3 separate regions of the Homo sapiens genome follow, and all the other regions are linked to region 1. Evidence: fine-mapped expression QTL. A gene starts in region 1. Each other region holds a variant in brackets. All regions are shown on one strand. Distances are from middle to middle.

The links. PIP is the estimated chance that this variant, and not a neighbour inherited with it, causes the effect. A credible set is the group of variants that fine-mapping cannot tell apart.
Region 2: its variant is the best candidate, but not a certain one, in a credible set for the expression of NFYA in thyroid (GTEx, PIP 0.56).
Region 3: its variant is the best candidate, but not a certain one, in a credible set for the expression of NFYA in whole blood (TOPMed, PIP 0.66).

Annotation. Positions count from the first base shown.
Region 1 is chr6:41,071,309-41,075,521 of GRCh38, reverse strand. It overlaps NFYA (nuclear transcription factor Y subunit alpha), which reads right to left and starts at 2,548. Exons shown (of 10, transcript NM_002505.5): 1 at 2,438-2,548. OARD1 (O-acyl-ADP-ribose deacylase 1) reads left to right here and starts at 3,166. Exons shown (of 6, transcript NM_001329686.2): 1 at 3,166-3,286; 2 at 3,847-3,926. The coding sequence starts at 3,888. RefSeq lists silencers at 1,658-1,817, 1,848-2,477 and enhancers at 2,858-2,907, 2,938-3,147.
Region 2 is chr6:41,128,470-41,132,682 of GRCh38, reverse strand. It overlaps the pseudogene ADCY10P1. Among named protein-coding and RNA genes, the nearest start is that of TREML1, 24 kb to the left of the region's middle. The variant CT/T (reference allele first, on the strand shown) is at 1,911.
Region 3 is chr6:41,097,546-41,101,758 of GRCh38, reverse strand. It overlaps NFYA (nuclear transcription factor Y subunit alpha), which reads right to left. Exons shown (of 10, transcript NM_002505.5): 10 at 1-4,213. It also overlaps a transcript of OARD1 not described here and the pseudogene ADCY10P1. Among named protein-coding and RNA genes, the nearest start is that of NFYA, 27 kb to the right of the region's middle. The variant G/A (reference allele first, on the strand shown) is at 2,609.

The sequences.
Region 1 (4,213 bases):
TGTCAGACAAAGAAATTCTTCTGCAGACTGGTGGAAGCTTGTAAGGTATTTAGCAAAAAAGTTACCAGATTATAATGCCTTTTAGAAAGATGCCAAGCAAAAGTATTTAGTGATTTTGAAGTGACCAGAACATACCTATTTTTAAATACTAAGGTTAAAACATCTATTTCAGGTCAGGACGCAGTGGCTCATGCCTGTAATCCCAACGTTTTGGGAGAACAAGAAGGGAGGATGGCTTGAGCCCAGGAGTTCCAGGTTAGTGAGCTACGATTGCGCCACTGTACTCCAGCCTGGATGACAGAGGAAAGCCCTGTATCCAAAAACAAACAAAAAAACGTTCCAAAGGCAAATATACATGTTTTTTAGACTACTTAAGCTCTATCATCTCATCTGCTAATGCGGATAACGTGACAATCAAATGAATTAAGAAAATCACTTAAGCAACAATGAAAAACTCACCCTAAAAAGTGAAAATAAAACCTGTCCCCGAAGTTTTAGTAATGAAAGAGCACTGGAATACGAGTTTTCTGAAACCTATTAGTTGTATAACATTAAATGTGAATTTAGAAATGGGCACCAGATACTTAAGACCTTTATGTGCCAGGGAATGCACTAGATGATTCACATGAGTAAAAATAATTTTCAGAGTCCTAGGACAAGTCTCCTCTTCATCCCCAAAGAACTCAGCCACTATCACGGGGCAGAACCCATAAACAAGTCAGAAACTCGTTTTTTCAATCTTAGGAAAAAATATAGCTCTAGATCCCTTCTACTTGAACCTCCATACAAAATAATAACTGTTTCCAAAATATTCCTTAGCAAGATATACAAGTATTTTACCAACTGGGCTTTCCCCCCTAAACTATCACAACTACTGCCCACTTCCCTATCCCATCTTCCTGCCTCCAACAGTGTAATTTGATTCCTCTGCACATGCTTTTCTTCTCTTCGAGCAAGCTCTTCCATCTTTCCTGTGGAAGAATTACCATCATTCTTCAAGGCCAGTCAAAAGTGCGGTGGTGATAAGCCTTTCACGGAGGCTAGCTCACGCATGGATACTTCACAGCAACTGAACTTGGCCCCTTTATAGCACTAACCGTTAGGTATTAACTACCTGTTCACCTGTCAATTTCCATCAGGTAGGCACAGTTCTTATTGACCTCTACGTACTCCCTCCCTAACACACGGATTATACCTGGCATATACTAACTGCTGGATAATTGGTTGCCAACAGCAACCTCTCACCCTAAGGAAAACCCCACAACACTGTTAGTTTCTAAACATCTGCTGAGAAAACGTTAACACAGGACTTGAAAGTGTATCAGAAAAACATAAACCAAGAGATGAGTGGACTGGGTCAAGCCTGACACAAAGTAACATAGAAAGGCGAAGGCAAAAACAAAGGGAAAAAAAACCCCCAAAACTGTACTATATTCCCAAGGGAGGGAGATTTCACAAAATGAGCAGTGGATAAGATTAGTAATATGAACAGCAAGTTGTGCAGCCTCCGGAAAGAATGCGCAAGGGTATCAATCTTCTAAGAGTGAGGTTCCAGGCACCGAATGGACTGGTCTTACAGCCCGGACAAGAAACGGAGACCGCTTGGTTGGGCTCCAAGACGGAGGTGTGCGGTCCTGCCACTGCGAACGGGGCGGGGAAGAGAGGAAATGACGAGCCAAAAGGGGTGGTAACGGCGCCGGGCCGGAGACCCGGGCGGAGCGGGCTGGGAGGAGGGGCGCGGCGGAGCAGGGGGAGTGGGCGAACTAACGGCCCCCTCTCCCCACCAGGGAGACAGCGGGGGCGGGCCCATAGGGCTCCGAGGCGTGGGCGGGCCAGCCCCGTTGCCAGCCGCACACGGGACCCCGCGGCCGCGGCGCGCACCCTCCCCAGGCCTCCCTCCCGACCTAGAGGGGCTGCAGATAAGACAGACCCGGCTCGCTGGGAGCGGGGAGCGGGGGGCGCGGGCCCCGGGGAGGCTTCCTGTCCCAAGGGCCGGAGAGTGGAGAGTGCAAGGGCAGGTTTAAGTTTGCGGCCAGAACGACCAGGAGGAAATCGCCGAGGCCCAGGGCGCGCATGTGTCCCCTAGTGTAGGGCCATTCGTGGCCCCAGGCCTGGGGCCTGAGAACCTGGGCCTGAGTCGGGGAACAGGGACGCATTCCCAACTGGCCCTGGCACCCTGCGAGGGTCGGAGCCCCGAGGTGCCTGCTCCCCGAGGCGCCATCCCCGCGCGGGGCGGCCCCTGCAGGCCTCGGCCGGGAGTGCCCCGAGGCGCTCGCAGGCCCCGGGCCGGGGCCGCTGGCCGCCCGGCTCGGCTAGGCTCAGCTCGACTCCCCGGGCTCGACGGGCGCCTGGGCCTCTCCTGAGTGGTCAGCGAGACCCGCCAATCGGGGCGCTGGGGCCGGCTCTGGGCCGCTGGATATTGGCTCCTCACACTCACCGTGCCTCGCTCCCCCGGTTCGCTGCCCGCGCTGATTGGCTCCAGTACCGGACTCCGAAACCCAATCAGAGGCTCCAGCCGCCGCTGCCGCCGCCACTGCCGCTGCCTAGCAAAATGGCGAACCCGAACAAAGGGGAATCGGGCCTCCCTCCAACCGCCTCCGCGCAGGCGCCTCTGAGGCCACGCCCACTAACTCCAGTTCAGGGATCGCCCCACCCCTTCGGAGGAGCAACGCGCAGGCGTTCCCTGAAGCCACGCCCACCTTCCCGCTTTGACACCACCCCCAGTGAAAGGAATACGCAGGCGCTTTCCAGACGCGCCAGACCCTTCAACTCAAAACGCTGCCTTGAGCTTAGTACTACGCAGGCGCTAACTAGCCCCTTTGCCAGCTGCCCACCCCTTTCCAAGTGGCCACTAGGACACACCCCTGCGGCTAATGCGCAAGCGCCACTTTTCCCGACTCGTGGGGCAGTTTCGTTACGCATGCGCGGGCGGCGGCGGGAAACCACGGAATTTACTGCCGGAAGTTCGGCGGCCTTCGCCAAAGAGTGTGGGCTCGGCTAGCAAGCTAGAGGGGCTCGTTTCCGCCCCGCTACCGGGCGGGGGCGGCCATCTTAGATGCGTGCAATTAAGGGCTTTGGCGGGATTGGCTCCGCGTTTGGGCTGGTCCGCTGCTCCCCACCTACCAGGGTCGGATCCGGAGCCCTTCCCCGCGGGGCGGGGACCTCCAAACAACCGACTCCTTTCCAGGTGAAGGGTGACTTGGGTACGTTGGGGCTTTGAGCGAGCCTCCCCGCACCCTCCCATAGGACCCCAGGACAGACTGCGTCCTCGCTGACCCGCCCTAGGGTAGGAGACAGAGAATGGGAGGCTTCAATAGACTCTTTCCTTCTCCCACGCACCCCCCAAAAAAGTGGGGGGTGAACGTTCCTTGAGAGGCCGCCTTCCTTTCCCCACGCCTGGGGCTCAGCACGCCAGTACCCTGTACACTCTGTGGTTGCGGCTTAACGGGACTGTGGCCAAGTCCCTTCTGTTTTCTTCTAAGCCAGACCCACTGGGGAAATACTTTTGCGTCGTGCAGAGAAAAGGAGACCGTCCTAAATCGGCCTTGCTCCGGAGTGGCCCTGGAGAAAGGAGGAGGCGTGTCTTAGGGATGGGCTTTGCTTCCGCTGACGGAGCGGGGCGCTCCAGGAAAGCACGAAATGAGAGCGGGTCGAGACAGCCTCCGAACCTAAGCGTTCTTCCTCTTTGCCCCAGAAGGGTTTTGTATTACGTCCCAGGGGCCGAACAAACTCACATTCATCGATAAACGTTGGGGAAAAAAGCCTATTAAGTGGTTGTACAGGGCAATCAGAATATTATATACTAAGGCTGCCTAAGCATTTTTACTTCCTTTTCCCTTCTCATAGCTGAAGAAACACTTAAATTCTGGAAATAGCGACTCAGTATCATGGCCAGCAGCCTTAATGAAGATCCAGAAGGAAGCAGAGTGCGTAACAACTATTGACTTATTGGTGAACTGAAATTCGTAATAATGGAGGTCAAAAGCATAAACACTTTTTAATTAAATTAATGATTGCATTATCTTTTTTTCTCTCTAGCTGATTTACTTTAAAAAGGCTCAAAATTCTAGGCAGGGATCATCCATTACTTTCCTTTTACACATGCTGTAATTGGTTTGGCTTTAAATCAGATTGGAGGAAGGGGTGCCGGGAGAGGTAGTCGTGGGGGACACAAAATACAGAAAAATAGCTTAGTATTTTACTGTATCTAATA
Region 2 (4,213 bases), 57 kb before region 1:
CTATTCCATTACCACATTCCCACTGCATGTTTTTTCCTAAATCCTTTCTAGCTCTTCTCTCTCTCCTACTTTCTTCCACTTTTCACTCATGGTTATGATTGTAAGAGATCTCAATCACATTCTCAAAGTAAAAGGCTCAGCTGAAGGGCAGATTACAGAGCCTGCTCACCATATAATTATCTGACAGGTCCAAGCAGGCAGCCGCAGCCTCCAGCAGGTAATAAAATGCACAGGTGGTTTCTCCAACGACCAAGCAATGCTGGGTGAGGGGTAAGAGCACTAACTTCAGGATATCCTTACAGTGACAAGGCTTTGTGGTCAACAGGTCTTTCTCAGGGCTGGTCTGAGCCAGCTTCCTCTTCACTTGATCTAGGAACTCTTCCTCTGTTCTTTGTGGAAAGAAAATGAAAAACTGAGAGTGGCCACCTTTACTGGGGCATTACCGGGTCTCAAAGTCACTTTTTCCAGGAAGTCTTCCTGTATCATTCATTAATTATTTGCCTATCCTTCTCCTCCATTACTCCATAAAATTTTAAAAGTCAGGGACTACAGCTGTAACTGCAAAGCTCTATTAGGAATTTTTAAAAGCTGAAAGCCAATCTAAATACCTCAATCTAAATGGGGAAATACCACACTTGAATAGTTAAATAACAACTAAATATTAAATAAAACATAAAAATGATACAAAGCAATAATAATACATTTTTTCTGTTAGCATTTTTGAATTTTCTAATACCACATTTTAATATTATTTTATATATCATCATCTAATCCTACAACAACCCTGTCATTCAGGCAGGCAAAAATTACCTCTTTTAGGTCATTGAGGCTCAGAGAGATTACATATAGCTTCGTAGCTATTGAGAAGCCAAACCAAAACTAGAGCTTACCACTCTGACTACTGATCTAGTGTACTTTTCACAGGCACGCTGAGCTCAAAAGTCAGATCTCTCTGAGTTATAATGATCTAAAAAAGTGGAGACTGAGGAGGGCCTTGAAGGATGGTCAACATATTAATAGGTAGAGAGATGTGGAGGTCACTCAGCATTTAACAAGGGAGAATTGTGTGAGCAAAGACACACAGGTTAGTGTGGGAGTGGTTCATGTGGAATAGATTTTTGTTTGAAAACAATAAGAAATCAAGTTAGATAAGTGGGATGGAAAACTGTATATAGAGTGGCTGGTGAACTCCAGGTAGGGACATTGAACACTGATAAGCATTAGAGACCCAGGAGGTACATGGTTAGGAAATGTATATTCATTTTAATATCATCTGGGCTAAAATAATTAACAAGACAAATTTATAGCTGGAAATAAATATGCTACATATAAAATGCACTTAAAAGCTATTAAAATGCTGGGTGTGATGGCTCACGCCTATAATCCCAGCACTTTGGGAGGCTGAAGCTGGCGGATCACCTGAGGTCAGGAGTTTGAGGTCAGCCTGGCCAACACGGTGAAACCTCATGTATACGAAAAATACAAAAATTAGCCAGGCGTGGTGGCATATGCCTGTAATTCTAGCTACTTGGGAGGCTGAGGCAGGAGAATTGCTTGAACCTGGGAGGTGGAGGTTGTAGTGAGCCGAGATGGTGCCACTGCACTCCAGCCCGGGTGACAGAGGGAGACTCCATCTCAAAAAAAAAGGTATTTTAAAAAAGTTTTTCTCAACCATTATCCTTGATGAACATTGATGCAAAAATCCTCAATAAAATACTGGCAAACCGAATCCAGCAGCACATCAAAAAGCTTATCCACCATGATCAAGTGGGCTTCATCCCTGGGATGCAAGGCTGGTTCAATATACACAAATCAATAAATGTAATCCAGCATATAAACAGAACCAAAGACAAAAACCACATGATTATCTCAATAGATGCAGAAAAGGCCTTTGACAAAATTCAACAACC[CT/T]TCATGCTAAAAACTCTCAGTAAATTAGGTATTGATGGGACGTATCTCAAAATAATAAGAGCTATCTATGACAAACCCACAGCCAATATCATACTGAATGGGCAAAAACTGGAAGCATTCCCTTTGAAAACTGGCACAAGACAGGGATGCCCTCTCTCACCACTCCTATTCAACATAGTGTTGGAAGTTCTGGCCAGGGCAATTAGGCAGGAGAAGGAAATAAAGGGTATTCAATTAGGAAAAGAGGAAGTCAAATTGTCCCTGTTTGCAGATGACATGATTGTATATCTAGAAAACCCCATTGTCTCAGCCCAAAATCTCCTTAAGCTGATAAGCAACTTCAGCAAAGTCTCAGGATACAAAATCAATGTACAAAAATCACAAGCATTCTTATACACCAATAACAGACAAAGAGCCAAATCATGAGTGAACTCCCATTCACAATTGCTTCAAAGAGAATAAAATACCTAGGAATCCAACTTACAAGGGACGTGAAGGACCTCTTCAAGGAGAACTACAAACCACTACTCAATGAAATAAAAGAGGATACAAACAAATGGAAGAACATTCCATGCTCATGGGTAGGAAGAATCAATGTCGTGAAAATGGCCATACTGCCCAAGGTAATTTATAGATTCAATGCCATCCCCATCAAGCTACCAATGACCTTCTTCACAGAATTGGAAAAAACTACTTTAAAGTTCATATGGCACCAAAAAAGAGCCTGCATTGCCAAGTCAAACCTAAGCCAAAAGAACAAAGCTGGAGGCATCACGCTACCTGACTTCAAACTATACTACAAGGCTACAGTAACCAAAACAGCAAGGTACTGGTACCAAAACAGAGATACAGATCAATGGAACAGAACAGAGCCCTCAGAAATAACGCCGCATATCTACAACTATCTGATCTTTGACAAACCTGAGAAAAACAAGCAATGGGGAAAGGATTCCCTATTTAATAAATGGTGCTGGGAAAACTGGCTAGCCACATGTAGAAAGCTGAAACTGGATCCCTTCTTTATACCTTATACAAAAATTAATTCAAGATGGATTAAAGACTTAAATGTTAGACCTAAAACCATAAAAACCCTAGAAGAAAACCTAGGCATTACCATTCAGGACATAGGCATGGGCAAGCACTTCATATCTAAAACACCAAAAGCAATGGCAACAAAAGCCAAAACTGACAAATGGGATCTAATTAAACTAAAGAGCTTCTGCACAGCAAAAGAAACTACCATCAGAATGAACAGGCAACCTACAAAATGGGAGAAAATTTTCGCAACCTACTTATCTGACAAAGGGCTAATACCCAGAATCTACAATGAACTCAAACAAATTTACAAGAAAAAAAGCAAACAACCCCATCAAAAAGTGGGCGAAGGACATGAACAGACACTTCTCAAAAGAAGATATTTATGCAGCCAAAAAACACATGAAAAAATGCTTACCATCACTGGCCATCAGAGAAATGCAAATCAAAACCACAATGAGATACCATCTCACACCAGTTAGAATGGCAATCATTAAAAAGTCAGGAAACAACAGGTGCTGGAGAGGATGTGGAGAAATAGGAACATTTTACACTGTTGGTGGGACTGTAAACTAGTTCAACCATTGTGGAAGTCAGTGTGGCGATTCCTCAGGGATCTAGAACTAGAAATACCATTTGACCCAGCCATCCCATTACTGGGTATATACCCAAAGGACTATAAATCATGCTGCTATAAAGACACATGCACATGTATGTTTATTGTGGCACTATTCACAATAGCAAAGACTTGGAACTAACCCAAATGTCCAACAATGATAGACTGGATTAAGAAAATGTGGCACATATACACCATGGAATACTATGCAGCCATAAAAAATGATGAGTTCATGTCCTTTGTAGGGACATGGATGAAATTGGAAACCATCATTCTCAGTAAACTATCGCAAGAACAAAAAACCAAACACCGCATATTCTCACTCATAGGTGGGAATTGAACAATGAGATCACTTGGACACAGGAAGGGGAATATCACACTCTGGGGACTGTGGTGGGGTCGGGGGAGGGGGGAGGGATAGCATTGGGAGATATACCTAATGCTAGATGACACGTTAGTGGGTGCAGCGCACCAGCATGGCACATGTATACATATGTAACTAACCTGCACAATGTGCACATGTACACTAAAACTTAGAGTATAATAAAAAAAAAAATTAAAAAAAATAAAAAAATAAAAAAAAATAAAAAAAAAAAAAGAAAATGTGGCACATATACACCATGGAATACTATGCAGCCATAAAAATGATGA
Region 3 (4,213 bases), 26 kb before region 1:
TTTCCCCTACTCTCTTAGGCTGCCTAGCTATGGGAAACAATAGGATCCCTCCTCATGTCTGGCTAGAGAACCACTCACACAGTGAGGACAGGCACCTGGTATTACCCATCTTCATATCCCTGACACAGAGTAAGTATTTGTTAAATGAACGACTCGCGGAGTGGCTGCTAGATAGCTACGGCCAGAACAACGGCGGGCATATACTTATGACGCCAAGAACGAATTAACTGAACGAATAAAATAATTGAAACAGAACGCTTAATAGAAAATGCTCGGGGTTGGGAAAAACGGGTTCAAAGCCCGGGGCGTGGTCCTGTAAAAATCCTTTCCTCTGAGTTTCAATTTCATCATCTTTGGGGTGAGCTCAAGGACTGAGCCGGTTCATCCCAAAAGATGTCCTCCCACGCTAAAACGAAGATACTCAAAGTTTCCTAAGGAAGCCGCAGCACGAAGTTAAACTGTGCCTTAGCTCGCGGGAGGCTAGGCCTGTAACCGTCGAGGCCTCCAGGGGCTTAGACCCAACGGCCGCCTCTCCCGCAGGCCAGGAGACTTAAGTGCAAGTGCCGGCCGTCGCCCTCACCCGTCACATGGACGCCTAGGAGGACGCCCTGGGCCGTGGCGAGCTCGGGTTCCCATCCCCGAGGCTTCCGAAAGACCAGTAGGTCGGGAAGCAGCGCCGCCAAGCGGGCCTCCACAGGCCACAGAGGCGGCGTCGCATGCCGCTCGCCGGTCACCATGGCTGCCCGCCTAGGTACCGGAAACAGGGCCCAGCCGCGTAGCAGCCAATCCGCCTAGCAGGCTCTATTGGAGGCCTGCCGCCGATCAATCCGCGCAGGCTTCCTTGGGACAACGCCAATCGGAAGCGACTTCAGTCGCCGCCCCACCACCTTCCCACATTCTTAGCGGGGCCTACTTCCCCGGGGAGAAGGGGCTGGAGGTGCGGCGGTCTGCGCTTTCAAAGGAGCAAAGCTGTCTTTTCTACTGGAAACGGGGGAGGCGAAGACGCTCCTACGATAAAGCCGTTGGTGTGAGATAAATATCGAGAGGTCTTTCCCTCATACCACAGAGTAGAATCTTGGGTCATCTCTGAATTTGGTAAGGACAGGTTCCACTGGCATAAATCTAAGCCAAACTCAAGCACAGTTTGACTAAAGCTATCAAATACTGTCAGTGCTTTTCCTTCATTGTGGAGAGTTTCTCCTCTCTCATCTGCCAGGGCAGGTCTACTGCTCTCATCATTGAGTGCTTCCTCGGGCTGTTTGTCTCTTGTGTGTTGATAATGGCATATCGGAGGCTTCTAGTCTTTGTTGCTTAGATTCCCAGCGACCGTAAGGTAAAACAGTAACAAGGTGAGCATGCTGTGGATTTTTAACAATCAGAAAAGTACTTTTGTTTTGGTCTTCTGCCAAAACAAAATCTAACAAAACGTAAATAGTACATCTTCACTACCTGAAATTCTACAATACTTAAGGCTGTTTTTGTGATAACGGCTAATTTTCCTCATGGAATTACTTCATCACATTTTGATAAACACTTTCAGTAGTAGCATCAAATGTATGATCAGCCTGCAGGTGACAGAAAAAATCTCCTCAACAGGGTGGAAGGGCCAAAAGGGAAGAAATTAAGGGGAGATAAAGCTAAGAGGCTCAGACATTACAAGTTTGATACTGTTTACAGAGACACCGTCCATGCAGACAAGTCTTGTCGGGGGAGATCAAAATTTCAACACTGGAAACACAAACTAGAACCCAGGAGTTGCAGATTCCTCAAAAGTCACATTACTTTTCGGTTATTTTTATAAATTTATTTTAAAAAATAACAATTGCAATGACATTAATGATCGATCACCTGTACGCCCCCATACTGCTGGGGGAAAAACCTTCGATATAGTTGAATCCCAAAGAAAAATCAAGACATTATTATCAGGCACCCTATAGCCACAAAATGCTCTGTTGGTCCAGTGGCATCGACACTGACATGTTCAATGTACCAGTGCAGTTAAAATATATACACTTAAAATTATCCTGCAAAAAAAAAAAAAAGCACTCAAGTTGCATAACTAGGCATTAAACCAATTATTCATTCATCCATTCACTCTTTCTCCATCTGTAAAGTTATCACTACAGTCACAAATAAAAATGAATAAAAGAACTAGTATCAAAGAAAAAATCCAAATGTCAATACCCTGCCCCCACTTTGTGGGCTACTATGGTGTGCCAAAGTGACCACAAGAAAAGGGTCATGAGCTATTTGAAATGCAATGACAAAATGACAACTGAAGCATTTCAAACAAAATTCAAAGTCATCTCCCCCCAAATAAAAAATTCAGCAACAAGGCTGGCATTACTATGTACAAACTTACAGACACAAATAAATAGCATCTTCTAACTGTTGGCAGCTTAAGCACTCAAAGTTAGGTCTGAGTAATTTCTTTCTGAACTCTGCATCTTAGACTCCTAAATTAACCAAGGAATATAAATTCCTCATTGTTAGTAATCTATTCTCTGAAAAACTTGGGACTTACTGAATAACATTAATATCCCAAACTCTTGTAGAGCTAGAAGTTTCTAGTGAGCTTACCAAAGGATCAGTCCTTTGACATCTGGAA[G/A]CCAGGAGCGATTACCAGATCCCTGGGACTAGGAATATTTCACTTCCTGTTTCCTTTGCATAGCTCTGTACCTCTATTTCTATCATTACAATCATCTCTCTTTGTGGTGTTTTTAGAGGGCTTAATTTCTGTCTTAATACAGTTAAGCTGAAGTCAAAGAAGAACCAATTTTTATTCTTGGTATTTAACCCCCAATGTTCCTCGGAATTATTGGGTTTTCCTTGTTTCCAGAGAAGGCAGCCAACTCTTCTGAAATATCATCTTAGTTCTCTCAGGGTTCAACATCTAAAAGAGAAATAGATTTCTGAGGCACAACCCGTTCTGGGAACAGTGGCCCAGTTCCTGACCCTGCAGGCATGTTTCTTTCAGTCTGCAGTTTATTCTCACAGTATGGATGCAATGAGAAAACCTTTCTGCACAAGGCCTATGGAGAAAACATGAAAACTGGCACCAAAGAATCAGCTGCCATGGGAAGAATGAAAATGCTCGCTTTCTAGGGCCAGCATTGTGCTGCAGGAGTGAAGCCAACATCCACCTCAAGCTTTAGTGGGTAACTTGGACTCTGTCCAGGACAGTGTGACTGACCAGTGCTTTCCAGAAATTGTCAAGGATCAAATCTCAGGCTTCTTCCTTTCAGTGCTTGTTAAAGGTTCTAGAGTAAATGTGAATTACTCTCTTCATCTTAATGATCCATTCCAGGTATCCATCCACTGGAGAATCGTGCTCTATGATAACATACGGGTATACATGCTCTCTCTCTCTCTTCCTCTCCCCCACTCTCTCCCACTAGGCTGAAACACATGAATCTTTTAGTTCCCCAAATGCTGTCACAAAGTCTATGATTGAAAATCTCTAGTTTGGCCCTTCCTTTAGGAGTATTACAAATCTCCTCAGTGCTTCAGCAAAGAAGTTGTTGAATAGTCTTGTTCTCTACTTAGGAAAGGCAGTTTCAAGGTTTAATAACCCTCTACATTGTCTTAGAAGTAGCCACAGCAAGTACGATGGTCCAGATGACCAGTCAACAGAGGGACAAGCAGGCCACAACTTTTCAAAGCTAGAAAAAGAGATTCGGCAATGTATATTTTTAGTGCTTGAGTCTTTTATCATTCTATCCCCAGAATTAGCTTTTTCTTGGCTAGAGTCCAGAAATATCAACCTACCATCTGGGCAGAGAGGAATTCTTATTATTACCACAGATTGGAAGAATGTATCTCAGGAATTTATTGTTTCCGTATCACAAGATAGAACTTCCTTGCCTGGAAGCCATCTCTGAATACAAAGCGTCCATTCAGTTAGTCAGTGTGAGATTCCCCCACCAGAGGGATAAATGCTGTCTAGATTCCATGGGAAGGAGTGGGCTGCTGCTTTCCTGATTGCAGTTTTGGTTGAGAAGGTTGTTCTTCCCTGCTGAGATGGCTGGCTGACTTCACCAGTCAAGGTAAGTGCTTTGTGTACTGCTGGGGTGGCATGTGTCTCCTTGCATCATCCGAATCCATGAAATGTCAATGTCATCAACAGTCTGAAATAGGTCCTGACTGAAAGAGTAAGACAAAGGCTTGCAACTTCAATTTGCCAGGCATCGCTGCAATTGTAATACTGAGCCAC